Regions from separate parts of the Homo sapiens genome. Here regions 1, 2, 3, 4, 5 and 6 are each linked to region 7. Evidence: fine-mapped expression QTL. A gene starts in region 7. Each other region holds a variant in brackets. All regions are shown on one strand. Distances are between the middles of the regions.

The links. PIP is the estimated chance that this variant, and not a neighbour inherited with it, causes the effect.
Region 1: its variant is fine-mapped to the expression of HPCAL1 in whole blood (INTERVAL, PIP 0.93).
Region 2: its variant is fine-mapped to the expression of HPCAL1 in whole blood (TOPMed, PIP above 0.99). The same link has a PIP of 0.9 or more in NK cells, monocytes, monocytes after LPS, monocytes after interferon gamma and neutrophils.
Region 3: its variant is fine-mapped to the expression of HPCAL1 in esophagus mucosa (GTEx, PIP above 0.99).
Region 4: its variant is fine-mapped to the expression of HPCAL1 in whole blood (TOPMed, PIP above 0.99).
Region 5: its variant is fine-mapped to the expression of HPCAL1 in whole blood (TOPMed, PIP above 0.99).
Region 6: its variant is fine-mapped to the expression of HPCAL1 in whole blood (TOPMed, PIP 0.99).

Annotation. Positions count from the first base shown.
Region 1 is chr2:10,380,764-10,384,945 of GRCh38, forward strand. The region is part of intron 1 of HPCAL1 (hippocalcin like 1); the gene reads left to right. Among named protein-coding and RNA genes, the nearest start is that of SNORA80B, 64 kb to the right of the region's middle. RefSeq lists enhancers at 1,530-2,185, 2,186-2,839. The variant G/A (reference allele first, on the strand shown) is at 2,130.
Region 2 is chr2:10,406,729-10,410,910 of GRCh38, forward strand. The region is part of intron 2 of HPCAL1 (hippocalcin like 1); the gene reads left to right. It overlaps LOC124905972 (a long non-coding RNA gene), which reads right to left. Exons shown (of 3, transcript XR_007086211.1): 2 at 1,241-1,385; 3 at 730-1,117. Among named protein-coding and RNA genes, the nearest start is that of SNORA80B, 38 kb to the right of the region's middle. RefSeq lists enhancers at 930-2,129, 1,377-1,988, 1,989-2,601 and a silencer at 2,461-2,590. The variant T/C (reference allele first, on the strand shown) is at 1,972.
Region 3 is chr2:10,388,020-10,392,201 of GRCh38, forward strand. All of the region lies in intron 1 of HPCAL1 (hippocalcin like 1), which reads left to right. Among named protein-coding and RNA genes, the nearest start is that of SNORA80B, 57 kb to the right of the region's middle. The variant A/G (reference allele first, on the strand shown) is at 2,405.
Region 4 is chr2:10,397,825-10,402,006 of GRCh38, forward strand. The region is part of intron 2 of HPCAL1 (hippocalcin like 1); the gene reads left to right. Among named protein-coding and RNA genes, the nearest start is that of SNORA80B, 47 kb to the right of the region's middle. The variant G/A (reference allele first, on the strand shown) is at 2,380.
Region 5 is chr2:10,330,099-10,334,270 of GRCh38, forward strand. The region is part of intron 1 of HPCAL1 (hippocalcin like 1); the gene reads left to right. Among named protein-coding and RNA genes, the nearest start is that of HPCAL1, 29 kb to the left of the region's middle. RefSeq lists enhancers at 856-955, 1,486-1,685, 1,515-2,102 and a silencer at 1,066-1,115. The variant G/A (reference allele first, on the strand shown) is at 2,145.
Region 6 is chr2:10,433,901-10,438,082 of GRCh38, forward strand. No RefSeq gene overlaps it. Among named protein-coding and RNA genes, the nearest start is that of SNORA80B, 11 kb to the right of the region's middle. RefSeq lists enhancers at 1-649, 1,294-1,343. The variant ATCCTCCCTTGTAG/A (reference allele first, on the strand shown) is at 1,976.
Region 7 is chr2:10,300,681-10,304,862 of GRCh38, forward strand. It overlaps HPCAL1 (hippocalcin like 1), which reads left to right and starts at 2,224. Exons shown (of 5, transcript NM_002149.4): 1 at 2,224-2,497. LOC101929691 (a long non-coding RNA gene) reads right to left here and starts at 2,037. Exons shown (of 4, transcript XR_922791.3): 1 at 898-2,037; 2 at 162-333. RefSeq lists silencers at 1,759-2,538, 2,423-2,620, 2,939-3,118 and an enhancer at 2,799-2,858.

The sequences.
Region 1 (4,182 bases), 80 kb after region 7:
GACTCCCCTGGCATCCTGCACTCACTCACCTATGGCACATATCATTGGCCGCAAAATCTCCTGGGCACTTATCACACTGCGGGTTCCTTGAAAACAGGAATCATTCTTGTTCTCTGCTGCATCTTAGGATGGTGACTGGCACATAGTAGGAGTCCAATTAAGAATGTTTTGAATAAGCGAAAGAGTGCCTAAATGAGACTTCTATTCCAGCTTGAAGACCAGCCCACCACCCTGATAAGAAAGTTCAAGTGTGGGAACCGCTGGGGATCTTGATGGCCTGGGACCTCTGGATCAGTGCTTGTGCAGGACAGAGGCAGCCCCGGAGTTCTCATGGGGGCTGGTGAGCAGAGTGGGGCCCCAGGATGCCTGATGGCCCGGTCTGAGGTGTGCAGGTGCCCCTGAGGTGGGCACCACCCAGGAGATGCATGTATCTGTGAAATACCAGATAGGCCCTTAGTCTAAGCAAGGAGGCATCTAAGCTCCTTAAAGATTCCACAAGGATGTTACGTTGTGCTTTGAACAACAGAGACGTGGCTCTGCTGAGCCCCAGCCAAAGCTCTGCACAGGGACCTTGACTCTCCCTTCCCGCTGTGTGGCTCCAGCAAGTTTCCTCCCACCTCAGGTCTGGGTTTCCAGGCATTAAGTGACAAAGTGGATGCGACGCTCCTTCTGGACTGTAATGCGCACTGCGTGGAGATGTTCGTGTTCCAGTGTAGACAGGGCGTTGTCACATCAGGCAGGACTACAGGGACAATGTTTGTCAGCCTGTCTTCTGGGCAACTTGGGGTATCCTCCCTTTATATCACCTCCTGCCCAGGTGCTCTGCGCCGCCAGAGCATCATGTCATTTGGGATCCCTGATGGCAATTTTGAGACTTTGGTTCACAGTAAAGATTGGTCCTGTGTGATCTTAAAGTAATGTGGCTTAAAAACAAATGGCTGTCAGGGAATTGTAAATCAAAGCAAACACCGATGAGAATGGCCCAAATCCAGGACACTCAGCACCAAATGCGAGGGAGGATGTGAAGCCACAGGAAGCCTCACTCACTGCTGGTGGGAACGCAAAACAGTACAGCCACCTTGGAAGACAGTTTGACAAATCCTTAGAAAGCTAAACACACTTTTACCCTGTGATCCAACAATCATGCTCCTTGATATTTACCCAGAGGAGTTAAAAAAACTTATGTCCACACAAAAACCTGCACATGGGTGTTCATAGCGACTTTATTCACGATTATTCATAACAGCTGGAACTTGGAGGCAGCGAAGGTGTCCTTCAGCAGGTGAATGGATAAATTAGCTGTGGTGCATCCAGACAATGGAATATTATTCCACAGCACTAAGAAGAAATGAGCTAGCAAGCCATGAAAAGACATGGGGGAACTCATCTGCATATGAGTAGGTGAGAGAAGCCAATCTGAAAAGGCTATGCCTATGGAGGATTGCAACTCTATGATATCCTAGGAAAGGCAAAGCGATGGAGATAATAAACAGATCAGTGGTTCCTACGGGTTAGGAGGGAGGGAGGGATGAGCAGGCAGAGCACAGGGCATTTTTAAGGCAGTGAAACTGCTCTGTGTGATACTGTAGTGGGGGAGCCATGTCATTGCACAGTTGTCAAAACCCATAGAATATACAGCACCAGCAGTGAGTCCTAATGTAACCTACGGACTTGGGTGATAATGACGTGTGAAGAGACAAGGCGGGTTCATCCGTTGTAACAAACAGCCACCCTGGTAGTAGGGAGGGCAGGAGGTATGTAGAGAACTCTGTGCTTTCCACGCGATTTTGCTGTGAACTAAACAGCTCTAAAAAATAAAGTTCATTAATTAAAAAAAAAAAAAAAAAAAAGGGAAATGACCACATGCAAAGCACTGCGTGGAGGGCCACGCATCCCAAGCAAGTCAGCTAGAGTAGAGGCAGGAACCAAACAGCTCTATGAGGTTCTGGATGAGAAGCCGCATGCACCACCCCCTCCCTGCTCCCGTGTGGGACCCAGTGAAGACCTCCTGTGCCCGGCTGCAGCTGCTGAGTGTGGGAGTGTGCTCTCCACAGCAAACCAGCCGTGAAGGCTGCACACCTTCCTGTTTCTGCCCAGCCACACCACAGGGCACTCAGCCCTTTTCCTGA[G/A]CACTTGAAGCTGCGTTTCCTCGAGCTCCTTCCTGTTTAAGAACAGGAGGGGAGTGGCGGCTCGCTTGTGCACCACTCTCCAGGGCAGTGGTGTGCGGGACACCCTGCAGCACCTTTGACTCCTCCTCTGGGAATGAGGCGTGGTTTAATCTGCAACCCCTTACCATTAGAGTCTGCAACTAGTCAAAAGGTGAATCTGGCTGGGCGCGGCGGCTCATGCCTGTCATCCCAGCACTTTGGGAAGCTGAGGCAGGAGGACTGCTTGAGCCCAGGAGTCCTGACCAGCCTGGGCAACATAGTAAGACCTCCTCTCTACAAAAGTAAACAAAACTAGCCTGGCGTGGTGTCATGTGCCTGTGGTCCCAGCTACTCAGGAGGCTGAGGTAGGAGGATCACTTGAGCCCAAGAGGTTGAGGCTGCAGTGAGCCAAGATCGCGCCACTGTGCTCCAGCCTGGGTGACAGAGTGAGACCCACCCCCCTTTTTTTTCAGACCGCATCTTGCTCTGTTGCCCAGGCTGGAGTGCAGTGGCACGATCTCGGCTCACTGCAACCTCCACCTCCCAAGTTTAAGCAATTCTTTTGCCTCAGCCTGCCAAGTAGCTGCGATTACAGGCACCTGCCACCACACCCAGCTAATTTTTGTATTTTTAGTAGAGACTGGGTTTCACTATGTTGGCCAGGCTGGTCTCAAACTCCTGGCCTCAAGTGATCTGCCCACTTCAGCCTGCCAAAGTGCTGGGATTACAAGTGTGAGCCACCCAGCCCTGAGTGAGACCCTTTCTCAAAAAAAAAAGAAAAGAAAAGAAAAAAAAGGTAAATCTAAGAGGTGACCAGTAGGGGAATATATTTGTCGAGTCTCCTCACCTCAGCACTGTTGCCATTTGGAGAAGCATAATTCTTTGGTGTGTGCGGGGAAGGGGGGGCTGTCCTGTGCATTGTGGGGTATTGAGCAGTATCCTTGGCCCTACCCATAAGATGCTGGTAGGCATGTCCCCTCAACTCCCCAGTTGTAATAACCAAAAATATCTCCAGACATTGCCAAATGTACCCGGGAAAATCACTCAGGTTGAAGTCACTAAATTATATGTGTGTACATATAATTACACATGCATATACATCGCGTACACACACACACCCACACACACACACACCTTTTGCTGGTGGCTCTGGATTGGTAAGCTGGCTCCATGGCAAGAATCAGCATCCTAATACTTGCCCCACCCTTTAAAATAAACTTCCCAATCCTAGGCAGACAAAAGAACAACCCCAGACCTCCTCCCTCAGGGTGGGGACAAGGTGAGGGAGGTGGCGGCCCGGCAGGAAGGTCATTTCTTTCTTCAGTCACATCAGATGAGCTGCTTCCCCTCACTAGGAGTGGATGGGGCTGCCAGTGGTGTTCTTGCAAAATACCCCTTGTGGGAGGAGAGGGGTGGAGGGAGAGAACACCCTCCACACATCCCCGTGGGATGTCTGGAGGGAAGGGTTTTGGGCACCCACCCTGGGGAGAGAGGAGAGCCCAGGTTACCATCTGTGGTGTCCCCTCGCTCACACTCACTACTGCCCTCCACAAACTGCCATGCTTGCTTGGTGCACGGTGCTGTGCTGGGCACTGGGGCAAGGCCCCCTCCCCCATGGGGCTACAGATGCTAATCTGCAAATCCCAGAAAAGTGGAATCTCGGTGGCAGAGTGGATGAAGGGGAGGTGCTCAGTGCTATGAAAGCCAGCAGCTGGGAGTTTCAGGGGCTTCCCTAGGGAGGGACCCTGAGCTGGGGTCTGAAGGAAGAGCAGTTCACTGGGGAGTTAGGGAGTGTTCTAGGCAGAGTAAACAGTGCAGTGGCAGCCGGGGCTGGCACTTTTAAAGAAAGCCTCAAGACTTCTCTTTCTGATTGTGAAGTGAGCTGAGCAGACTGAAATCAAAGATGTGAAAATAAAGATAGAGGCGACAGGCTGGGTGCGGTGGCTCATGCCTGTAATCCCAACGCTTTGGGAGGCCGAGGTGGGTGGATCACAAGGTCAAGAGATGGAGACCATCCTGGCCAACATGGTGAAAC
Region 2 (4,182 bases), 110 kb after region 7:
ACCCTTCACCTCTGTAGAAACACGGAACTGTCACAGGGACAGACGTACATGGGTCGGGGGTTGCTTTCAGAAAGTCTATGGTCTCATTTTGGTCCTGCCTTTGAGCTTCCTTTTCCTGCTGGGTTAGGGTTCCGGACGGAAGGGGAGCATTCTCTTGGGCGTTTCCCTTTTCCTGTCTCCCTGTTCTCTCCCCAGAGGCTCATGTATGTCCGTTTCACTCACCTCCCTTTCTCTGCTTGGGAGGCAGCTCAAAGAGCTCCTCTCCAAAGACTCAAGCTGGAGTGATGTTCGCTCTATGATGACGCCGCACTGGTCCAGGGAATGATCTCACTGGAGAGTAGCAGGAAGTCCCCCATCCTGTCCCCCACCCCACTGGCTGAGGACCATATAGCTGGGATGTGTTCACCTGGGAAGGAGATTGGCACCAGTTTGATAAATGGACACCCCCAAGTCTGGCATGGCCCCAAAACTCTACTCTGCTGCAGCTGTTTCCATGCCAGAAAACAGAGATTTCCAGAATACCGAGTCTGAATGTGCCTTCTTGGAGCAGCTTCAAATCTGAGCAGGAGAGCACTTGACCATCCTAACCCCTGACCTTCCTCCAGCAATTCCTAAAACTGGAAGAGTCACAGAATGTTAGAATAAGAGGGATCCTAGAAAAAGAACCACTCACTCATTGCTTTGTTCATTTGCTCAGGCACTGTGCTAGGCGCTTGGAATACACAACCATTCATTCAAACATATTTATTGACTGAATTGTGTGCCAGGCCCTGTTTTGGGCCCTGTGGGGGTACAGTGGTGAACAAAAGGAGGCAGACAGTCAAGAGATTTTGTAAATATAGTGCCAGGTGGCAGGAAATGCTGAGAAAGGGGTCAGGGTGAGGGACCAGAGGGTGAGGGTGGATGCTCTTTGAGGTGGGTCCTTGGAGGAGGTTTCCCCACGACTGTTGAGCAAGAACATGAACTTGGAGGGAGTGAGCCTTGCAGACACTGAGGGGAAGGAAGAGCAGACAGGTGGAGGGAACTGCAGGTGCGAAGGCCCTGAGGCTGGAACACGCTGAGCAGCTTCTCTGACTGGGACAAATGAAGGATTCTCCTTCCCCCAGGAGCTCCCAGTCTAATGAAGGAAAAAGACAAAGAAGTGACGCGTTCAAAGCTGAGTTCATACTAGAAAAACGCTGTTAGAATTCAAAGGGAAGAGCAGTTGTAGGGGCTGGGAAAGGCAAGCCTGAGGAGTGACCTTTGCATTGGGCTTTGGTGGATGAGTAGGGGTTGGCAGGGTGGCTGAGGCGAGCGTGCCACACGGGTGAACTCATATCTGCAGAGGCACAAGGTGTGCAGGGACAGCCACCCACACATTCCTCTTCCTGTCGCAGTAGCAGCTTCTGCAAGAGAAAGTACAGCTCTTGGGGATTTCCCTTTTCCTTTCTCCACCTCTTCCTTCTCACCAGCTTCATTTAGGGCATTTCAGCCTTGAGAGGGTGGAAAAGAAGGAGAGATTGGTAGAGGAAGGGGATTTCTGTGCCCTGCTGGGTCTCTCTCTCTCTCTCTTCTCATATGTTATGTTTTTCTTGTAAGGTTTTGGGGAGTTGTGGGGAGTTTAAGAGGCTGGGGATGGGTAAGAAGTCAAGAAGGTTTCGGTTGGATTTCTCAACAACAGGTCATTGGCCTGGAGCCCCTCCAGTGGGTAAAATGCCGTGATGCAACAGCTTTCAGGAAGGCCTCCAGAAATGAGCTCTAGGTCAGTGGGTTGGGTTTAGGTGCAGGCACGCCCTGGAACTGTCACTCTAGAGGTGTTACTAACCTCCTCTTTCCCCGGATCTGACTCAGCAGGGTTGGCTGTTCCAGCTCCAAAGAGAAGGAGGAACCTTTTCCTTCTGCAGCCCCTCCCCACCAGCCTCATTCCTTAGCTGGGGTCAGACCTGGGGTCCTCACTGCAGCTGGCCTCTGGCAGCGTTCTCAGGCTAGCCC[T/C]CCCTGCTGAAAAGAGAACCGTGTGGGACTCACAGGTAATTATGAAATACAAACGCCATGATCTTTCACTCAAGGGCACTAAGGAGTGAATAAATAAAGGATACCACAGGGTGCTAATGAGCTTGAAGAGTCCCTGTTTGGTAGCCCCAGATCCAGGGTCCCTGGTATCACCCACTGAATGCTACTTCTACCCAGCACTGCCCACGGGAAATAAAGTGGGAGACACATACCTATGTGATTGTAACTTTTTCTATAGCCGCATTGAAAAGTAAAAAAGATGAAATTTAAAACTTGTTTGATTTAAACCGTTAGATCCCAAATGGTATCATTTACCATTTCACATGTAATCAAGAAAGAGAAAGTATTAATGAGATATTTTATGTTGTTTTTTTTCATATGAAGTCGTCAAAATCCGGCGTGTATTTTACACTAAGGGCACATATATGAGTTCAGACTGGCGACGGTTTATGTGCTCAGTAGCCACGTGTGGCTGGTTGTGACCATAGTGGACAAAGCAGCCCTAGCTTATAGGTGGAGACACGGAGGCACCTGAGAGGGGCGGGGTCTCAGCTCAGGCCCTGGGAGCCTGTTCAACAGCTCCCTCTAGCGTCGGCCCAGCCACACTTCAGCCTGGATGGTCCCAGATGCATCGGCTCCTCCCTGCACCTGGGTCCTGGCAGCCGGCACAGCCTCCCCGCAATCACCCAGGGGCAAAACGGGCCCCTCCTTGGAGAACTACCGGGAAGCTAAGGCTGCAGGCAGCTTGACTGTCACTTGCTTATTTGGAGGAAAGAAGGACACAGGCCCGAGTTGTTTTGAAAAATGCAATCAGCCCTAGGAGAGGGGCTTAGCTGCAGGGGCCGTGTGGGTCCAGCGGTCACCGGGAGAAAGAACTGGGTTGGGTGCTGGATAAGAAAGAGCACAAACCTGTTTGTCTTCCACCGGCCCCTTCTGCCTTCCACCTTCCTGTTCCACCCCAGGAAGAACAAGCTCTCATCTCAAATGGCCTGAGCCCTCTGATTCCTTGAAGTTCAAATTCACAACAAACGCCTCTCCAGCCTCTTCCTGAGCCTCAGTCTTTTTTTTTTTTTTTTTTTTTTTTTTTTTTGAGACAGAGTCTCGCTCTGTTGCCCAGGCTGGAGTGCAGTGGCACCACCTCAGCTCACTGCAACCTCCACCCTCCGGGTTCAAGCAATTCTCCCGTCTCAACCTCCCGAGTAGCTGGGACTACCAGGTGCGTGCCACCGCACCCAGCTAATTTTTTATATTTTTAGTAGGGACGGTTTCACCATGTTGCTCAGGCTGGTCTTGAACTCCTGAGCTCAGACAATCCACTGCCTTGGCCTCCTGAAGTGCTGGGATGACAGGTGTGAGCCACGGCGCCCCGGCCAGCCTGGGTCTCTCATAAGCATTTGGTGTTTCCCACCTCTCTGGTCGCCTTCCCTCAAAGCATCTCAGAGTCTGGTTGGCCTGGCAAGCTTCGGGGATCTGACTGATGAAAGCATTTTGGAGCAATGGGATGAGATGCCAACCAATGCCGTCAGCCGGCACTGAGGTGGGATTAACAGGACAATCAAGCCCTCGGTTCCCAGGAGCCTCACTGAGCAGCTGCTAGAACTGTGCCACTAAACAGGCTTTAATTTACAGGCAATACCGACTCTGGGTTAACTATTTCTCACAGGGCTCCCCAGCTGCATGTTTACATTTCTTTCCTTGTTCCTCTTTTTCTTCTTCTTCTTTTTTTTTTTTTTTTTTTTTTTTTACAATTCAGCAGATTAAGAACAATAGCAGGGTAACTGAGAACCACAGAGGTGGCTGTAAGTGACTCATTAACTCCCTCTCCCATGTTTCCATCACCGTGAATTACAACGTCATCTCTGATGCCCTCAGACAGCTGTTACTAGTTTGATCCGAGCCTTGCTTGAATATGAATCTTTTTAAGCCGAGCAGGAGATGGTTCTGCTCTCAAATAGACTGCCCTCCCCTGGGCCTCCCATTTCTTACCCCACCATCCTCCTTGGAGATGAAAGACTTCCTGAGAAATGAAGGCTGGGTTTGCCTAATTACTGGAGCAAGGTGGCTGTTCTGCTGGGAAACGTGAGTGGTGGCTTTCTGTCTCTGCAGAAAGGCTTGCTTTTGCTCGGTCGTCTTACTAGACAGCCAAGCACCAATAAGGTTGGCTCCTTTGCTTAATGAATGACAGAGGGGTCA
Region 3 (4,182 bases), 87 kb after region 7:
CGCAGGCCCCCCATGGGACCCTCAGCCCCCAGAGGACAATTGGAGGCTTCTGGACTAGGGTTCTAAGGTCTCCTGAGAAGGTCAGAGGCTCGTTGTCCGGCCAAGACAGACAGCAGACAGTTGGCGTGTCTCAGGGTAGGAGGCTCCCCAAATAGAAAGTACTGGATTGGGAGCGGATTTATTGTTCCCTGCCTCCCCGGGGCCGTCGGCATTTCCCCTGTGGCTGCCTCACTGTTCTGATGTTGGCAAAGGTTTGTTTTATCTTCCTCCTTCCAGAACAGGAGGTGCCTCAGTGCCTCAGATGCTGCCTGAGAAGGTCAGTGGCATCTGGGAGCCATGGTGAGGGTGGCAGTGACTGGGCTCGGGAGGTTCCAGAATTCTGTTAGTGAGCAGTGAGCTGTTTTATTTTCCTTCCTGCCTATGGAAGGTCCTGAGTGAACAAACAAGTTTCAGTCTCAAGACAACACATCGTGTTTCGAGGTGACCTGTCCCCACCCCACCCCTGTCACTGGGAGAAGACTGCAGGTCTCACGGTCTCCCGTCTGTCTCTGCTGCCCCCAGGTCCAGGGACTCCTGCGATTTCTCTCCCTGGTGCCTGGTATTTTTGTAGCACTCTCTGGTTTTCAAAGTTTTCCTACAACAATTGTGCTTAAAATGAAATATAAACTCCATCCCCAGCCCCCAAGTCCCACTCCCTGCCGACCTCGTCTCTTACTGGGAAGGCCCATCTTTGTCACCAGCAGCAGCTGTGAGTGCCTCGTCAGTGTTTAAGAGTCCAGGTCGCTGCAGCATCTTGGTGTGTACTGTGGACCCATTGTGTGTGTGCCCCCAAATTCCTGTGCTGAGACCCTCACTCCGAGTAGGATGTTATTAGGAGGCGGGGCCTTTGGGAGGTAATTTGGTCATTAGTGCCCTTATAGGAAGAGGATGCGAGCCAGACCTGCCTCTGCTGTCTACCAGGCAAGTATATAATGAGAAGGTGACGTAGGAGGCGGGACTCGACTCCAGAGGCAGGACTCAGACACCAGACCAAATTGAGGACTAGCTACAACAGGGCCAGGGTAGAAACAGCTTTCCCTAAGACGTGCCCACCAGTGTGCATGTCAGTTTACCACTGCCATGGTAATACCCGGAAGTTACGGCTCCTTTCCGTGGCAATCATCTGACGACCTGGAAATTACCACCCTTTTCCTAGAAATTTCTGCATAATCCACCCCCTAATTTGCATGTAATTAAAAGTGGGAATAAATCTGATTGCAGTGCCGCCTCTGAGCTGCTGCTCTGGGCACACTGCCTGTGGGGTAGCCCTGCCCCGCAAGGAACAGTCCCTCTGCTGCCGCTGGGCACAGCTGCTTCAGTAAAATTGCTAATACCACCGGCTCACCCTTGAATTCTTTCCTGAGTGAAGCCAAGAACCCTCCTGGGCTAAGTCCCAGTTTGGGGGCTCACCTGCCCTGCAAGATCAGGAGCCATCTGTACACCAGGAAGACAGCCCTCCCCAGAACTCAACTGTGCTGGCACCTTGATCTTGGACTTCCAGCCCCCAGAACTGTAAGAGGTAAATGTTTGTTATTGAAGCCACCCAGTCTATGGTAATTTGTTAGAGTGGCCTGGAGGAAGACACAGTATTAAGTAAGGCTTCGTGTCTGACTTCACTGAACACTGCGGTTGTGAGACGCATCTGTTGTGTGGGGCACTGAGGTTCATTCTGATTGCTTTATGGGACTCTGTTGTGACTGTACTCCAGTTTCTCTGCCCGTGGAATGTACATGGATGTTTGGATAGTTTCCAGGGTGGGGCTGGGACAAATTGTGCAGCTCTGAGTGTTCCTGCACATGCTTTGTCTTGGACATGTGTCCTTCTTTCTGTTGGACATACATGAAGGAGGTCAGCTGCTGCTTCACGGGGCATGTGTGTGGTCATCTTTAGTAAATATGCCAGTTTTTCAAAGTGGTCATAGACAGTAGATTCCTTTTATTATGTGACAAGAGCTCAAATGCCCTGGTAGTGGGAGTGGCAGCAGGAGCTACAGTAAGACATTGCACATTCTCTGGAAGTCAGGGATCCCTGCCAGTCAGTTCCCAGTGCCCCAGGAACCAGGGGTTTGGTGCTGGGCACTAGTCATGACCACTCGCGGCTCAGGTGTTGGGTGGTCTTTCCAGACCTTCACCTGTGTGAAGCTTGCAACCTGGATGGTCTCATGTGGACATCTTGGCTTCCACCCTGTGCTCTGTGTCTGGTCTCAGACCACAGCCCACCCTGGTGGTCTCCTCAGGACACATAGGCTCCTCTGTAACTCAGTTTCTTGAATTGAACAATGGAAGAAAATGCCTCTATGAAGAGAGGTCATTGTGCAAAACGTCTGTGTGACAGTATTCTTGGAGCAACTGTGCTTATCACCCGG[A/G]GGCCACAGTGGAATTAGTCATTTGAAAACCAGTCACCTCCAAAATAGTCATAATCCAAAACCATCCATCTTTGACTTCAGACTCCATTATAATTTTTTCTCCCTAAGGGACTTTGCTTTGTAATTATGTTGGATTTCCTAATATATTAAAATAATTTGTCATCTCTTGAGCACACATCTGCCTGCTATGAGCAAGCAGGAGAGGCCACTTCCGGTTTTCTGCAGGTCCCAGTGAGCATGTGAAGCCTGCGCCTGGGCAAGAGGTTGGATACTGGGAGGAAGAAGCTTTTCCAGTACCCTTTCCCAAAGACCAGCCAGTGAGGGAAATGGGCACCGAATGCACCCCACCCCCCGGCCTGGGACTGGGCCAAGAAGGAGGAACTGACCCCAGAAATGGCCCCGGAACCATAACCTGCTTACACTGTGACCTGCAGTGCCCATGGTGGCAGCCTGGGCTGTTTCTGGAGTTGAGCGGAGAGTTCCTCCAGTCTAAACTCCTTAGAGAACATGAATATTCCTGAGGGCCTGGGGTCCGGCACCACCTTCAGTGGACTGGATCACCTTCTTGAAGGCAGAGAGATCTTAAGAGCTTATGTCTGACTGCCTACCCGATGCCCAGCACTAATCTGCATGCACCCCACTGGGCCATGGGCTTCTCAAAGGTGGGGACGCTGTCCCTGTACCTAACACACATGGTGGGCACTCGGCCTAGGTTTGCAGGGCCTGCTGGGGAGTTCTCCAAGGCAGTTTTATAGCTCAGCTCCAGCACCTTCCTGGGGGCCCAGTCCTGGATTTGAGGCTGCCAGGGGGGTTTGCAGTCAGCTAAGTTGGTACCCATCCATCCCTTCCCCTCTGTAAGGGGTGACAAGCACTAAGACCTGTTATGTCCCCTGGAAGCTCTACACTCTGTCCCCTTGCTCTTGTGACTCTGCTCTTTGCTCTCCTGTCCACTGGCATATAGGAGTAGGAGGATATTGACTTAGATTCCTTTTTATTATTTTTGTTTAAATCAGCTTTGTGGAAATGTAATTCACATACCCTACCATTTACCCATTTAAAGTATACAATGTAAAGTATACAATTCAGTGATTTTTAGCATATTCACTTGTATGTGCAATTATCACCATGGTCAATTTTAGAGTGCTTTCATCACTCCAAAAGGAAACCCGTACCCTTTACCTGCTAGCCCCTCTTTCCCCATCCGCTCTTCTGCCAGCCCCAAGAAACTACGAATCTACTTTCTGTCTCTGTTCTGGACATTTTATATAGATGGAATCATACCACATTTGTCCTTTTGTGTCTGGCATCTTTCATTATATTTTTGGGGTCTTGTTGCTGTTTTTGTGACAGAGTCTCGCTCTGTTGCCCAGGCTGGAGTGCAGTGGCACGATCTCAGCTTACTGCAACCTCTGCCCCTCCAGGTTTAAGCAGTTCTCTGCCTCAGCCTCCGGAGTAGCTGGGATTACAGGCGCGTGCCACCACACCCGGCTAATGTTTTGTATTTTTAGTAGAGACGGGATTTCACCATCTTGTCCAGGCTGGTCTTGAACTCCTGACCTCGTGATCCACCCACCTTGGCCTCCCAAATTGCTGGGATTACAGGCATGAGCCACTATGCCAGGCTGTTGTTGTTTTTTAAGACGTGGTCTCGATCTATCCCTCGGGCGGGAGTGCAGTGGCATGACCATAGCTCACTGCAGCCTTGAACTCCTGGGCTCAAGTGATCCTTCTGCCTCAGCCTCCTGAGTAGCTGGGACTACCCCCATGCACCACCATGC
Region 4 (4,182 bases), 97 kb after region 7:
TTTGGTTTTGTTTGTAAGCAAGGAACCAGGTATGCGATGCTGGAGAGTGTGTAATTCTGGCTGTGCCTCTTCACAGCCCCTTCCAATCTCGTGCATATTAAGGTTGATAAAAACACCCTCTTCAGGGTCAATGCGAGATCAGACCTGGAGTGAAGTGTCCCTGTGGTATCTGGACCAGCAGGACCTGGCTGCCCCACAGCTCCTCCTCTCTCTCCCTCCTCCCTCTCATGGTCTCATGACTATTATGGTGACTCTTGTCACTCACCACCCTGCCCCACCTGCTCCTGCATACTGTGAGCATCAGTTGGGGCCATGGATGTAGCAAGGGTCAGCTGTCATAGGCTCCCGGGGGGACACCTGGGGGAGGGACATTTGGGGACAGAGCCCCATCTGGCCATGCCCAGCCCCTGAGAGCCCTCATCACCGACTTGCATCTGGTGAGTTTGGCAGGGTCCTGTATAAGGATTAAAGTCCTCCAAGTCCTCATACAAAGTCGCTTTCCAAAAGTCTGGAATTTTCTTGGCCCTAGACACGGGAGATGCTCTTTATAATTTTCATCTTCCCACTCAGAAGGAACCACCTTTGAATACTCAGCCAGGCTAAAATTTGGACCCAAAACCTGTTAAAGCATCACTGTCTTAATTTCAGTGTTCATGATGGGGTTCTGGGCTGTGTGAGGGGTGGAGGGCAGATACCAGTGGCAGGTTTCATCTGTGGCCCTGGTAGATGTGAGTCCCGCAGCCGGTCAGCCCAGGGCCCAGGGCAGACCCCGGGCGTGGCTGCTTTCCCGCTGGGCACCAACGCACGCACGTGGTGTTTCCAGGGCAAAGTGAGCTCCCCACCCTCTGCCCGTCCCCTGCCCCGCCCTTAGATCTGCATCCCGTGGGTGGGGTGGGTTTTCCTGCCTTCCTCTTCCTGAGGGAGGCGATTTCTCCTTCCGCTTTCTCCTTGCCACAGTAGCTGCTGGGTTGGGAGGAGACATCCAGGCTGGGGCCTCAGCCTCAGGGTGCCAGTTAGCGTGTGGTTAGCTGAGAAAAAAGTATTTTTCTCAGCAGAAAATAGACACAACTGCATGTGAAGGGGCCACTTCCACTCCTTCATTCTCCATCCACCAGCCTTACTGGAGCTAGAGAGTGGGGGAACATCTGGGTCCGTGTTACCTGGATGTCACCTGCATACAAATGTCCTGGCCCGAGGCCACTGTCAGCACGGGTGCACAGGGGAGGCGCCTGGCCCGGCAGGTCGTGCTGAGGCTGATACCCGTGTCAAGAAGCTGGAGCAGGCGAAGAGATCAGAAGAGGGTAGAGGAGGTGGTCCGAGGTGTCCATTCCCATCCCCAGACCCCTGGGGCATTTCAGTGCACGCACAGCAAATAATATCACTGCACCACCACCACCACCACCACCACCACCACCATCACCACCACCACCACCACCATCACCACCACCACCACCATCACCACCACCACCACCATCACCACCACCACCACCACCACCACCATCACCACCACCACCACCACCACCACCATCACCACCACTACCATCATCACCACCACCACCACCACCACCACCATCACCACCACCACCACCACCACCACCATCACCACCACCACCACCATCACCATCACCACCACCACCACCATCACCATCATCACCACCATCACCGCCACCATCACCATCACCACCACCGCCGCCACCACCGCCACTGCCACCGCCACCATCACCGCCACCACTACCGCCACCGCCACCACCACCGCCACCGCCACCGCCACCACCACCACCACGAGTTGAGGGACTCTGGGATCAGAAGGCACTTTCCAGCACATTCACACCATTGGCCGTGGATGTTGTGGGTCAGGTGATGGGCACTGGAAGGGCCTTCCGCTTCTCTCTGCCCCTGGCCCTTGGTCATGTACAGCAGGCCGCTCCCCGGGCAGTGGAGAAGCAGCACCTGCATACTAAGGCTCGAGTCCCAGCCTCCCCTACCAGCCTCCCTCTCCACGTCCCCAGACACTCATGCGTTCCTTCCCTTGAGGTGGGTTCATGGAGCACGTACCCTGTGTCAGACAAGCTTCCAGGCTCTGGGCTTCTGATGGAGAACAGACCAGAGTAAACCTGGCCCCAAGGACCTTGAGCTCCACTCAAGGGGAGACAGACAGTGAACTCAACAAAACAGAAATGAGAGAAAGGATCAAGCTGGAAAGGGGATAAAGAATGAGTGTCGGTTTTGGATAGAGTGCTTGGGGAAGGCCTTCCTGAGATGAGACCTGACCAAAGGCCTGCAGGAGGTCAGGGACGGGCGTGCTTCTAGCTAAGGAGCAGCTGGTGCAAAGGGCCTGTGGCAGACGTGCACCCGTGGCAAGGAGGGGGCGAGCAGGCG[G/A]CTCAGCCAGGTCGGAGTGGGTCACACCTGAGGGGCAGGACGCTGGCAACCCCGACCGCTGAGGAAGACAGGTGCGAGCAGCATCTCGGCACAGCCAGACCCCCACCATACGGCAGCCCTCTGTGTCCCTTAAATAAGGATGCCTCCTCCCAGGCTTAAGAGATCATTGTTGCTCATAGTGATTTGTGTAGCCAACAATTCTTCTGGAAGAAGTTAGATGAACAGGGCCATGGAGATTTGGGGCCGGAAGAGCAGGACCCCAGGCTTGCCTCCCCTCTAGTGCTGGCCAGGCCGTGGATCCCAGGCGGGCATCTCAGAGAGCCATCTGAGCGGCCTTTCTGGAAGTGCCCTCCTAGGCAGACGCTGGTCATGAGGCAGGGCAGCGGGGAAGGGACAATCCTCCTGTGTTGTACATTGAGGGTTATATTTAGGGTGACTTGGGATGACTTGGCAGTATCACTTCCTGTGGTCGTCCCCTCCAGCCCTCAGCCACGGAGGGCAGATCCTGTCTGACAAGCATTGTGGGCAGACACGTGCCTGCACACACGTACACACCCACATGCACACATACACACACGCACACACATACACACATTGTGGGCAGGCACAACTTGGCATTCTCATCTGCCCTGGAATTGGTGGAGGGCTGGGGACATTGTCCTGGCCCTTCTGCAGGACCGCCAGGTGCCTGGCGGGGGAATCCTAGCCGTCAGCATCTCCGGAGCATCTGCTCCATGTCGGGCTCTGTGTGAAGGGCTGCATCCAGATCCCACATGAGCAAGACCGGCCTAGCCTCCCCATCTGGTTGGGAGATGCCAGGCAGAGGTGGAAGGAAGGGCGGCTGACCTGCCCCTTAGTCTGCTCAGCCACACAGGCAGCCACAGCCGAGGCTGCACAAGGACACTCCCCTGACCTTGCTGCCTGCTGGCCCCGGGTCTCCAGGCCAGGTCCGAGCCAGCCAGGCTCCTCCCCACCCATGTCACCGGCCTCTCTAGGTGGAGTCCACAGTGATCTTTGCTCCCCTTCCCCAGGCATCCAGCACCACACCAGGCACAGGGCCTGGTATTTCTGGGACAGCCCAGATTACACGTTTTCTCTCAGTTACCCCCTAGAATATTCTTGGACTTCTCAGACCCCATGTGCAAATTTTTAGCTTAGAAGTAATCACTGGGATCATAGACGATGTTTAGCAAATATCTGTTCTTTTGGGTGTTCCTAGGCCCCCAGAGGGTCTCCGGGAAACTGGCTCTTTTGCTGAGGCTAGAGACTATCTGGGCTAGAATGTGTCTGATGGGGCTCTCGGAGGGTGCACAGACAGTGCCGCGGTGGCCGAAGATCCACTATTCCAAGGCCGGATCTGCAGAGGATTTGGAAGTTGTCTGTAAGGAGCGCCTAGATCACCCGGACCTTCTCTCTCCCTCCTTGACTTCCTTCCTGCCTCTCGTCAAACAATTACTGTGTGCTTCCTGTGTTCTAGGCGCTGTGCTAATAATTGGTTATGGGATTATTCCTAGCCACACCCTGGGTAAATGGAACCCAGCTCTCTGTCCTTGGGAAAAGGGTCAGGAGAGAACTGGGGCCCAGCTGGGAAGCTGGAGGCTTGAGGCTGCTGGTCCATGTTGGAATGCTGTCTCCCTCTGCCATCCAGCACCCAAGCCCGGCGCCAGGCTCAGAGCAGGAACTGAAGCTTTTGCTGTTGTTGTTGTTTTTGTTTTTTGAGACAGTCTCGCTGTGTCTCCCAGGCTGGAGTGCAGTGGTGTGATCTCAGCTCACTGCAAGCTCCGCCTCCTGGGTTCAAGCGAT
Region 5 (4,172 bases), 29 kb after region 7:
CTTTTAGAGACTATGCACAATTTATGTGGCAAGCTAGAGATGCTTTCTTTTTCAGAGCGGCCTTTATGCTGTGTTCGGGGCTGTCTGTCGGCGCCACAGGGAATGGGGGCTGGTGAGTCGTGCTCAGAAGGTCCCAGTCTAGATGCTTCTGACATGGACAAAAGGAGAATTCCTGACTTTTTGGTGGATGTTTGCAATTCCCAGAATGCTTATTCTTATTTAGTCCTCATAGGAGAGTGGCGAAGGGCAGCAGCTTTGGAGCAAGGGCCACCCTGCCCCTCCCCACCAAGCCCTGAGTCGTCTAACCTTCCCGGTGTATTAGTCAGCTCTGGCTGCTGGAAACGGGGTCATAGTCTGGGTGCCTTAAACAACAGGAATTCTTTTTTTTTTACAGTATTGGAGGCTGATGTCTGAGACAGGGTGGCGGCAGGGTTGGTGTCACCCGAGGCCTCTCTCCTCGGCTCCGTGTAGCCCTTTCTCCCTCTGTTCTCACACGGCCATCCCTCCGAGTGTGTCTGAGTCCCAGTCTCCTTGTGAGGACACCAGCCCTAGATCAGGAGCCACGCAGTGACCTCATTTTACCTTCATGACCTCTTCAAAGTCCCTGTGTCCAAATACAGTCACATCTGGAGGTAGTAAGGATTGGGGCTTCCACATAGGGGTTTTGTGGGGGACACACTCAGTCCACGTTAACTCACTTCCTGCCCACGGCAGGGGCTCTCTGTCAGTGTGTCTCCGACTGCGGACCCCGATCATCTTTGTGAGAATGCAGGTTCCCAGGCCCACACCGTGCTGGTTGAGTCAGAGCTTCTGGGTGCAGCCTGGGGGTGCAGCAAGCCCACCCCTGCATTCGGAGAGCCTTAGCGGGAAGCCTGTTGCTTGTGCCTCCTTTGCAGCCCCGGCCTCTCCAGTTCTCTGTGTCTTGCCATCTTGGCTTCTTCCTCATCCCGCCTCTCGCTCCATCTCGTGGCCTCCCATCTGCTCTCCCGGCTGCAGGAGCGGTTTCTCTAAGCCTTGCAAGTGACCGCACCCTCTTACTGCATGCGGGCCTTGCCAAGAGCCTGCAGAGGGCGGGGCGGGCTCTGGGGACAGCCTGGACTCTCCTGCCTGCCCCCAGGTGCCCCCGGCCCAGCCACAGGGTGCTGGCTGCCTGTTACTCAGCACGTCCGCCTCTCCTGCCTCCTGAGCCCACAGGCGCCCTTCCTGTCACCCGAGCGCCCTCTCCTTCCTCACCTCGCCACCTACGCATCGTCACCCCTCCTCCTGCGTTTCCTCCTGTCTCCCCGGGGAGCTCGGAGTTCTGCAGGCACGGGGCTGGCTCCTTTCTTCATGTCCCTTGTCCCACAGGACACCGTTTCTGAACCCAGGAGACACTCAGGAAACCTTGCTGGTGGAACGGATGCAGCAGCGAGGTTTTCCGGGGCAGGAACACCCTCCCAGGAGCTTTTCCACGGCCAAGCGCTGGCTGGTGGTGGAGCTGCGCTGAAGTCAGTGTGTGCTTTGGGCCCAGCTGCACTGTGCCCGGGGTCCAGGGATGGGTGTGAGGCTGTCTGCCCCCCACTGCACGCCCGGCTGTCAGAGGCATCTGTCTCTTCCCCCGCATGCATCTTTCTCCCCGTCTGGCATGGTGTTTCTAGTCTTTTGTGGATGGGGACATAAACAAGCCGCCATCAACTGCTTGGTGACATTGGCCAATCCTGTGGTGGCCCCAGCTGGGCTTGCTGCCTGTGTGTGGTGAGGGTGCCCTTCTTGTCACCCGTTGTCATTTACGAGACAGCCCTGTGTCACCTGTTGATTCAGAGGGAGCTCTCCTCATCACCTGTTGTCATTTATGAGCCCCGTGTCACCTGTTGTTGCTTCACAGGGAGCACTCCTTGTCACCTATTGTCATTTATGAGCCCCGTGTCACCTGTTGTTGCTTCACAGGGAGCACTCCTTGTCACCCATTGTCATTTATGAGCCCTGTGTCACTTGTTGCTTCAGAGGGAGCGCTCCTTGTCACCCGTTGTCAGGTGTACTCACTTTGCTTCTCCCTTCCTGCTTTTGGGGACGATCACAGGACAGTGGCTTCAGAGGGGAAGTACCTCGACCTGGCTGAGGTCATGCCCAGAGCCTGACTGCTCTCTCCACCCACCCATGATCCC[G/A]TCAGCTTCTTCCCCCTCCTTCTCCATCTGATCTGAGCATTTACCATTTCCTTCCATTTAAGCTTCATTTGAGTTGCATCATGATGTTCTCCTTTTTTCAAAGTTCCATCTGCCCACAGGTTTCCATTTTCTCTAGAACCCTCCTCCTTCCTCTCTAGCCCCTGGCCCGCCCCTCTGCGGTTCTCAGGAAGCCCCTCGGTGCCCCCTGCCCCTTATCTAGAACAGCTTCTGCCTAGGGTGGGCAAGGCAGGGTGGGAGGTGGGGGGTAGCCGTGCAGGGAAGGGGTGAAGCGGGCCCCTGTACTCCCTAGCTGGGCTGCAGGCTTGGAGGAAAATAAGAGTCAGACGCTTGTTAAAACAGTGAGGACAGCTTTATTCGAGGAAAATGCAGTCGGGGTTGACCTTATCAGCAGGGGAGAGATCAGCCCAACTCCTAATACAGCAAGGAAGGGACAGAGCTGGGAAGTGGAGTGGGCTGGGTGAGTGGAAAGTAGCTGCGAGAAGACATCACAGGTAGGGGGATTCTTGCCAAAGGCAGGGGGGGACTTTGATGTCAAAGGTGGGGATGAGGACTGATTGGATCTCAAGGGTGGTCAGATGTGAAGGGCGTGAGAGGCTCACTAAACTGACTAAGCAGGATTCTTGCTGAGACTGGGCCAGGCAGGCTGAAGACAGGAGGCAGAAAGAGGGCTCAGAGGAGCCTGAGTGAAGTTTGATCTTGGGGTGAGGGGTGCAGGGGGGAGGGGCAGGGTGGGTCTTTGTTGGGGCTCTGTGGGAGATTTCAGGGCTCACTGGATGTGTGGGGCACAGTGGGCCCTGCCTGAGCCCCATGACGCCTGGACGCTGCCACCAGGGGCCTGACCTGCTGACGATCTCTGCACTGGGTCTTTAATCAGCCTCTTGGGCATTGTAAATGCTAGACAAAGATTCTTCTCTTTTTAAAGTTTACTAATTTCCCTACGATAAAACTAATGCATTTTCACAGGAGAGACTCGGGAAATTACCAAGGAGCGTGAATCAGGTGGTCACAGTGAATTGTGGATGTTTGTGTCTGTCTTGGGGAACTGGTGTAACGTTTCTCCATCTGACCCCTGCTGTCTGTTGGAGGTCAAGGAGCCAGCCTGGCCTCACAACTTCCTCCTTTCAGCAAAGTCAGGAGGCCATTCCCTCCAGGGATGGGTGGGCTGCAGCCTCTTGGCACCTCTCGGGATCCTGCTGGCAGATGTATCACCGTAGCCCAAGCCAGCCTAAGCCAGCCTCCTGTGGCCCAGCACCTTCTCTTCCCACGTGGGCAGCTGTGTTCCCAGGCAAACCTTCCTGGAATTGCTCTGTGCTCTCAGAGCTGGTGTGCTTTGGTGTTCAGCTGTGGCCATTTTGGCTTTGAGTTTGATTTGATTTTTGAAGAAAGTTTTTATTTCTTTACCCAAATATTCTATGTCTCTTTGGTAAGACTGGAAAACACAGAAAAACAGAGAAAAAAATTCCCCCATAACTACCCTGCCCACCTCCATATAACTTTTATTAGCATTCTGAGCTATACCCCTCCAGACTCATTTCTGCCTCTCCAGAAGTGTGCATAAAGTCTAGAAACATAGGTGAAGAGACCTAATGCCATCAAGAACATCAACCTGTAAAGGAATAAAATAATGTCATCTGTGTCCAGATTTTACAGATGCTTTGTAGATATGTGTAACAGAAATGTGGGTATGTTTTAGCAAAAATAAGACCATATTTTTGTTTTATTTTGATTGATTGTACTATAAATTCCAGTAGAGCATTACAGAGCCAGCCCAAGCCCATCTCTCCTCTTCTCTACTCTTTTCTTTCCCCAGTGACCAATAGCCACTCTGCGGAGGGAAGTAGGGATCATATTTGTGCGCGTTTTACGCTCTTGCTACACATGTGCGTAACCTTAAACAAAACATTAGTTTTTATGTGTTAGAAATACTCATAAATGGTGGCCCAGGCATGGTGGCTCACGCCTGTAATCCCAGCTCTTCGGGAGGCTGAGGCAGGAGGAGGCTTGAGG
Region 6 (4,182 bases), 130 kb after region 7:
CCTGCTCCCCTTCCTGGCCCACCTGGGCCCACAGTGGCCTCCCTCCACACTGAGCTTCCCTGCACCAGGCCTGTCCTAGGCCTCCATGTCCCCTCCTCCAGAGGTCGCCTTCGGTGACCTCATCAAATTACTCTGGTCGTCTCCACCCTGAAGCCCTGCGAGGCTGCTCAGGAATGAGTGGGGATGAATGAATGAAGGGAGGGTCAGCAGGTGGCTCTGCTCTGTCTTCACGCAGCTGGAACCGCATGAGCTTATGCCCTGGACACACACTGAGACCCAGGCCAAGTCCCAGCTCCACCTCGAATGAGCCGCCTGGCACTGGACAAGCGCTGTGTCTTCATCTGTAAACCATGTGGTCAGGGAACCAGGGGCAGAGGGAGGGGCTGCAGGGCCTTGAGGGGAATGGCAAGGGTCCTCAGGGGCAGGACCTGACCTCCAGGTTCCTGGGGACCTCCGAAGGTGGGGGCCCCAGGGTTAGGGTCAGGCACCCTGGCAGGGATGGCAGAGCATGGGAGCCATGTGTGCGGGTGTCTTGTGGGGTGTGTGTGAGGCTGGGGCATGTGGTCTTAGTGTGCGCTGTGGATGTGTGTGGTGTGTTTGCATGTGTGGTAGTGTGTGGGGGATGGGGAGGGCGGCACAGGCAGCCTCAGGTGGGCTCTGCCTCTGGCTCAGGGACAGGTGCCAGGCACCAGCCCCACAGGAGGGGTGGCGGGGGGAGATCTGCCCTCCGCCCACTCAGCCTATCATGGGGGGTGGTCAGGGGAGGCCGGGTGGGGTCACCAGTCGCTGGTGGGCACAGGGGAGGATTGGGAACACCTCAGAGGGGATTGGGGCCACTTCGGGGACGGGCAGGGGGACAGGCAGGACCAAGGCTGCAGGGCCCCACCAGCTGTACACAGGGCTGGTTCTACAACATGGGGCAGGGGTGCAGGGGCTGGGCTGGGGGCTTCACCTGGGGGGCCTCAGGAAGTGTTTTGGGGGTCAGGGGAGTGGTCTGGTCGGGGACTGGGCTGCCTGGTGCCCCTTCCTCAAAGCCCCCGGGACCCTGGAGTGGCTGAGTCGGGAGCTCTGGATCGAGGCCACGCTCCAGTCTCACAGCCCTGTGGCTGTCAAGGGCCCCCTGCGATAGTGGAGCTATCAGTGTTTGCCCAGTGGTCGAGTGATTTGACTGCCTTTTCCTGGCCCCGACCGCGCTGCCACCGCGGGGTGCTGCTGCCCCCTGGTGTCCATAGCTAGGAGGGCCATCCAGGGCTTGGGTGTGCGGGTTCCAGCTGGGCCTGCTTTCGAGAAAAGCTTTCTGTCCTGGGCGGCATTTGATGACAGAGGAGGATGCTGAGGCCCAGAGGAGCCCCTGACTTGTGGTGGGCCAAACGGCACACAAAAGCTGAGGCCAGGCTCCCGGTACCCAGGACCAGAGGCCTTATTGCCAGATAGGAATGCCAGATACAATACAGGGCACCCAGTTACACTTGAATTTCAGATCAACGAGAAGCAATTTTGCAGCTGACATATGTCCCGTGCAGTATCTTATCTTTGTGCTAAGTCTGGCAACCCTCCTTGAGAAGCCAGGGAGTGGGGCCTGCACAGCCCTGGGGCGGGTGAGAAGCTGGAAGGGCCAGGCCTTCTGACAGGCACCCCCAGGGCCAGGTGCATGACCCTCCTGGCGGAACCACCCAGGCCCAGACTGACCCTCGCCCAGCAGGGCACCAGGTCTCCTCCCCTGCGGAGCCACCCCCGAGCTGGCCCAGCCTGGAGACCCCCGCTCCCCAGCTCACAAGCTCACGGGCCTGAGCTCCACAAGTCACCTGACTGAGCTCCACCTAGGTAACCCCTGGCCAGTGGCAGAGCACGCCTGGTCACAGCCCTCTCCAGCCTGGAGTCAGTGCTGCATGTGGATAAAATTCTCCGAACTCCCAACAGCAGCAAGAATTCCGGAGGCGCTTCCACTCTGTGCCCTGCATTCGGGCCTTCACCA[ATCCTCCCTTGTAG/A]CTGCCCTGCCGTGGGTGGGGGGCACCAGCTCAACCCCCACTCAGAAGGAGGCGGCCGTGGGGACCCCTGTGCCTAGTGAGGCATAGGGCCTGGGTCTGGCTAGTGCCTAGTGAGGTGTGGGGCCTGGGTCCAGCTTCGTCTGTCCAGCTCCAGCCGAAGCTGAAGCCACAGCAGGAATGCAGGGCCAGGTGCCACCGTCTGTGGTATTCCGGAGCCATGGGTGCTCGGGGCTGCCTCTGCCACCCTGGCAGGGAATAGGATTGGCAGAGAGCAGGGGCCGGGAACACGTTGCCCTTGGTGAGAGAAGGATGCCGCATTCTAGTCATGGTCATTGTTCAGCAAGAGCCCAGGAGCAGAAGCTGGCTGGCGAGGCAGGGCCCTGAGGACACCCAGGCCCTCCTTCTAACTTACAGACTCGCCTTGGACGAGTCACTTGGCCTCTCTGGGCTTCATCCCATCTGTAAAAAACAAGAACTGGGAGAACTCTGCAAAGCCTTTGCTTCACATGACGTCCTACCTTGAAACCCGATGGGTGAGATTGGGTGAGGCGGAGAAGGCAGAGCCCCCCACTTGCCCCCCTCACCCCCAGGCACTGAGGCTTCTCGGGAATCCCTGGTGGGGACAGAGCCCGATTTGAAATGGGTCGACTCTTGCCTTCAGGGGCAGTTTTCCAGCCGGGCCCAGAGATGGTGCAAAGCAAACCCCCAGATCCAGCATGGGGGAGGGCCCATGTCAAAGAGGGTACAGGGTGACAGCCAGAAAACCCCCTAAGCGGAAGGGGCTAGCCAGCCACTTCGAGTCACTTAGGAAAATCTAGTAAGGAGGGAACCTGCGAAGAGATGTGTGGTCCCAGTAGCAGAGGTCACTGCTGGGGTGTGACGAGCACATGACTTCACAAGACAAGCCGAGTGAGGCCCGGGAAGGGGCAGGCCCTACCCACGAGAAAGTGCAAAGTGGGCATCAGCCAGGGCTCAAGAGGGCCGCAGGGGGCACACGTGGCTTGCTCTGCCCACCGGCTTCTGGCCTGCCCTTGGTTGCTGCAGGCTATCTGTGAGGGGCAGTGCCTGGCCCTGACACTGTCGGGGAGGGAGGGGTTGACCACCTGCTGATGTGCCAGGAATGTTCCCATCTTTGGCTTCTGATGGGTCTGCTGCCTTCGTCGGCCTCATGAGCTGGGTTGGCATGAGCCAGCCCTCCTGGACCCTGCAAAGGTGAGGACCAGGTCGTGAGCAACTCTACCATGTCCCCCTGAGCCAGTCCACTGCCCAAGCCACCCTCCAGCTGCTTAACAGCATGTTCCCAGGGTAGGGAAACACCGAATGAATGCTGGGGTCCTCTGACCTGGCTTGAATGCTGCCTCACTATCTGCGTGACTTGAGTTCATCTCTGAGTTTATGTCTTCACGCGGGAAACCTATTTTACAATCCTCGTAAAGTCAGTAATACATTCCAATATCAAAAGCGCAGTGTGGAGCCAGTCCCCACTCTCGGCCCAGGCCTCTGGTTCTTCTGCCTAGAGGCAACCTCTGTTACCCGTTTCTTACAAGCTCTTCCAGAAATATGCCATGCATATGCAAGTATGTATGTACACACACAGTTTGTTGGGGTTTGATTTTGCTTTTTACACACACAGTAGCATACTACACGTGCCCCTTGCTTTGCTATCCTCACTGAATCTAGCTTGGAGCTTGTTCCTTATCAGTACTGATGAATCTGCTTCATTCCTTAACCACTGTATATCCCGTTCCATTGACAATTTCATCAGTACCTGCTTGTGTACAAGAGATTGTTTACAAATGATGCCACAATGAATAATTTTAGAAGAGTATCATCAGAGAAATTCTTAGAACTGCTGGGTCAAAGATAATGTGGATTATTGATATTATCAAGTTCCCTCCAAAGAGACTGTTGCTCTAATTTACTTTTCCGCCCAGTGCTTGAGCACACCTGCTCACCCCGCGAGCTGGGGAACTCTTGTCTTTGCCAATCTGATAGGTGAGAAATAGATTCTCATAGTTTTACTGTGTGTTTCCTTTGGTTGACAAATGTCTTCATGTTCAAAAAGTTTACTGTTGGCTGGGCGTGGTGGCTCATGCTTATAATCCCTGCACTTTGGGAGGCAGAGACGGGTGGATCACTTGAGACCAGGAGTTCAAGGCCAGCCTGGCCAACATGGTGAAACCGTCTCTACTAC
Region 7 (4,182 bases):
ACAAACTGCCCCCCACATCTCTCCAAAGGGGCCAGCCCTGCCAACACTTTGATCTTGGACTTCCAGCCTCCAGAGCTACAAAACAACACATTTCTGTTGTTTAAGTTGCCCAGTTGGAGGTGCTTGTTACATTAGCCCCAGGAAATTATACAACATCTTACCTGAATTTGCTTTCTTCTTTGCTCTAGTTAAATTCAAAACTACATATTGAATAACGACGGTGTGCTCTCTCTCCATGAAGCTTCGGGGTGGGTAGACAGTCCTCCTCTTGAAGGAACAGGAGGGACGCAAGGGAAGGGACCAACTTGTATCTCATCTGAGAGAGATACACTCCTGGAATAAGAGGTCTGCGGTTAAGTGTGTTTCTCTAGAAGTTCAGAAACAGAGGAAGCATCTGCGGGCTAAGCTGCTGAGGGCTAGGTGAGAGCTAACTGACCTAAGTTTTGAAGGATGGATGGGTGACAGGTTGGAGGGGGAAGATGGAAAAGTCACATGGGAGAGGAACAGCATGGGCCAAGTGTGGAGGAACCAGTGAGTGGGCTGGGTTTCAGAAACAGGCCTTGGTCTGCTTTTGAGCCCTCCCTGAACTTTTCCACCCCAACCCCACCTCCTGCCTGTGTCTGCCATGCACCTCCCTTCCTGTGAGTCTGTGGACAGACTTTGCCCCTTTGCCCTGTGTGTGCTTGGGAGAAATCTGCTCAGTTTCTGTGGCAGGGATGTTTCTACGTGTTCATCAAACCGGCTTTGTTTACTTCCGAAACACTCATGAAGACCACAGCTGCCAGAGCCCCTTGCATCCTGGTGGGACTGTGCGACTACTTCTGGCCCATGGATGTGGGTGGAAGTGACGTGTGCTTCCCCAGGCCTGGCTCCTGGACCCCACCGACGGCTTCTCACCTGTAACCCCACCAGCCTTCTACCTGGATACTTCACGGGGAGCTAGAGTGGCCTTGGCTAAGAAGGAGGCATGGCACCCGCGGGTACCGGGCCGCCTTCATCAGTCGGTGCACTCTGGTCCACCGCCCACATGCCTTCATGTAATCTTCACTGTAGGGCCCACAGGGAGGGGAACTTCCTCGAGGTCTAGCTTTGCCTTTCCGCCTTCAGAGCCAAGTAAGAATGAGGGGTCTGGGCTCGGCCCACCTTCCCTGCAAGGCCCTGTGCCCGCTCCCCTCAAAGCTGGTCTTGCATGTTGCTCTGGCGGCCTCTGTAGCAGGAGTTCACTCTGTTTTCCGTGGAGGAGGAGTGGAAGGAGGGATTCAAGCTCTCCCCTAGAGACGCTAGAAAGACAGTTTTGTCTCAGCCTCATACGATCGCCCAGCTCCACATTTCTGGCTGTTTCTGTGGTTACCTTTCTTCGGGGATGTTTGGGGCGGGAGGTGGGTGTGTGTGTATATTTGCTCTTCTGAAGCCGTTTTTCCGGAGCTCCTGGTGGGGGTGGGGGTGCTCTGTCCCTGGTTCCTCTCGAGGCAGGTGCAGGGGATGGAGGATGCCCCCCTCCCCGAGAGCCAGGAGGCGCCGACCCTGGGCAGGAGGTGCCAGACCGGCGCCTCTCCCGCGTGGAGCTCGAAGACCACAGATGCCTGGAAGGGAGGAGCACCTTCCGTGGTTAGGTGGGGAAACCGAGGCAGAGGCGGCCCAATGGACTCGCCTAAACGGCCTGGGGAGTCACTGCAGGTAACCAGAGCTGGAGCCAGGCTTCCCACTCCAGGCCCGGGGCTCTCCCCCGAACAGGCGTGGGAAGGGGTGCGAGCTGCACGCGGGGCTGGGGCTGGGGGTGCGGGGCTGGGGCAACTCGGCTCTTCCCCTTCCTAGGCCGCCCGGGCCACTTCCTGCGGCGTGGGGGCGGGGGGCGCGGGCGCAGGGCTGGCCCCTCCCGGGCGCCGCCTCTCGGCCTCTTCTATACCAGCAGGCCAGAGGCCAAGGGTTAGGGGAACAGAACCGGTGCCCGGCTCCGCCCCTGTCCCGAAAGCCACTGGGGGCTGGGACCCGGCAGGGCCAGGTTTGGGCCGCGAGGGCCGAGGAGCAGCGAGGTGCAGGGGCTGCGAGGGCCGAGCCGGGCGCTGAGGGTCCGGCAGGGGGCGTGGAGGGGGCGGGGCCCGGAGGGGGCGGGGCCGTAGGAAACTTGAGCGCCCGCCTCTGGCCGCGCGCCCCGCCCCGGCCCCCGCCTCCGGGTCCCGCCTCCAGGTCCCGCCTTCGCGTCCCTTCCTTCCCGGAGCTGGCAGGCGGGCCGCGGCGGCGGCGGGCAGCGGACGGGCGGACTGACGGGCGCCTCCACCTTGCTCCCTCCCTGGCTGCCGGCTTCCTTTTGTCTTTCTGGGCGGCGATGAGCGCAGGGCCGGCGCAGCAGCTGCGGGCGCACGGAGGCCCGCGCTGCTAGTCACTCCTCCCGGCCTCGGCGCGCTTGTCCCGGGCAGCGGCCCGGGCCCGCTGCAGCCGCCGCCGGCGCCGAACTTGGGCTCGGGAAGCCGGCGGACCGCGTCCTGCGCCGGAGCAGGTAGGGAAGGGGCGGGCTGCGGTCTGCTGGCTGCTGAAGTGTGCCCCGGGCGTGTGCACCCGGCGTGTGCACCGGCGAGCGCTGCGATCCGGCTCTTTGCGTGTGTGTTGTGCGCGCGTGTGTGTGTCCGGGAGTGCCCGCGTTTCTCTGCGCGGTGGAGTTGTGGGTGACTGCGGACGGTGGTGTGTCTTTCGAATGGCGTGTACTCGTGGGCATCCATGTGTGCCTTAGGTGTGCACATTTTGGACTGCGTTTGTGGAATTGTGTGTCGGGGCGCAGTTGCTGGTGGGGAGCGGTGCCTGGCGGGTGTCGTGTGTGAGCAGCTGTGCGCAGAGCGGGGTGGCGGGGTGGGTGTGGGTGGTCCAGCCCCACGCCCAGAGCCCCCTGTCCCTGCTGGTCGGCGCAGTGCGTAGCTTAGGAGCCTCGAGGACAGCTGGGACCCGACGGGCAAGGGCGGGCCTCGCGGGCAGGCTGGGCAGCCCTCAGGGAACAGGTCCGTGCGGCCCACGTGGGTCGCCTGTGAGCTTCTGCCAAGGGTGGGGGCCCACGCGGAGGCGATCCGCTCGTTCCTCCCAGGGCCATGGGGCGACGAGGAGAGCCCTGGCCTCCCCGCGACCCGCACTGCGACCTGGGCCAGACGCGCCACCTTCCCCGGTCGCGGTTTGCTTCTCTTTAAAATGAGGACAGCTCCTCCCTTGGGGGCTGTGGTGACAGGTGAAATGAGAACGCACTGAAGACAGCTCTTGGTCCAAAGCCCCGCACACAGTAGGTACTGTGTTAATTGGATTAGCGTCTCCTGTTTAAAATCCTTTTTTTTTCCCCTTTATCGTGGGTGGGGCCTTACATTTTCCCCGGGCGTGTTTTGTGCCTCTCCCTGGCCCTAACTTAACCGCGAAGCACTGAGATTCGAGAAAGTTTAGCTGCCAGCTGCGCTGCCTCCTGCAGCACCTCCCGGGCGGCGCCGCCTCCGCGAGTGCCCGAGAGCGCCGCGCTGGGCGCCGGCCCTGCCCCAGCCCCCAGGCTCCCGCGCAAGCGTGGGGGTCCCTCTCCTGGCCGGGAGGCAGCGACTGCGGAGTTGAGAACCCTTTGGTTCAACAAGTTCCTAGTCCGGGAGGATGCAGCTCAGCTCGTGGAGTCCGAGAGTCACGGCGTAAAATTGGCGCTTCCCGCACATGCAGATCTCGGGCTCCCGGGGTGTCCCGGCCGCCAAAGGCCACCCCTTTCCTCCTGGCTGACCCCAATTCCACCAGAGGAGGATGTTTGCCAGGGACGCCGAGTCCAGCTGCTGGCCTCGGCATTAGACAACCCCCAGCCCCAGCCCCTGCCATCCCTGCTCCCTTGCAGCCAGCCTCATGCCGGGGGTGCCACATGGGACACCTCCTCCTAGTCCCACACCTTAATTTAAAACATTTACTTTTGAAACCTACTAGTCGTAAAATTGAACCGCAGTGAACGAGCACCCAGCTCTTACCACGACTCACTCTCTGGAGAGTTCTGGCGCCTCGGCGCTGGCTCGGACGCAGCAAGGCCAGCTCTAGGGGTCGGGTGGCTCTCGGCCAGAGCGAAGGATATTCTTTCCCTTCATCGCCTTGGTGTCTTTCTCTGGGGGAAAAAAATCGCCTTTAACCAAGGGAGCCAAGATCTCACCAGTGCAGGAGGCTCTCAAAATGGAGCGCCGGCATGGG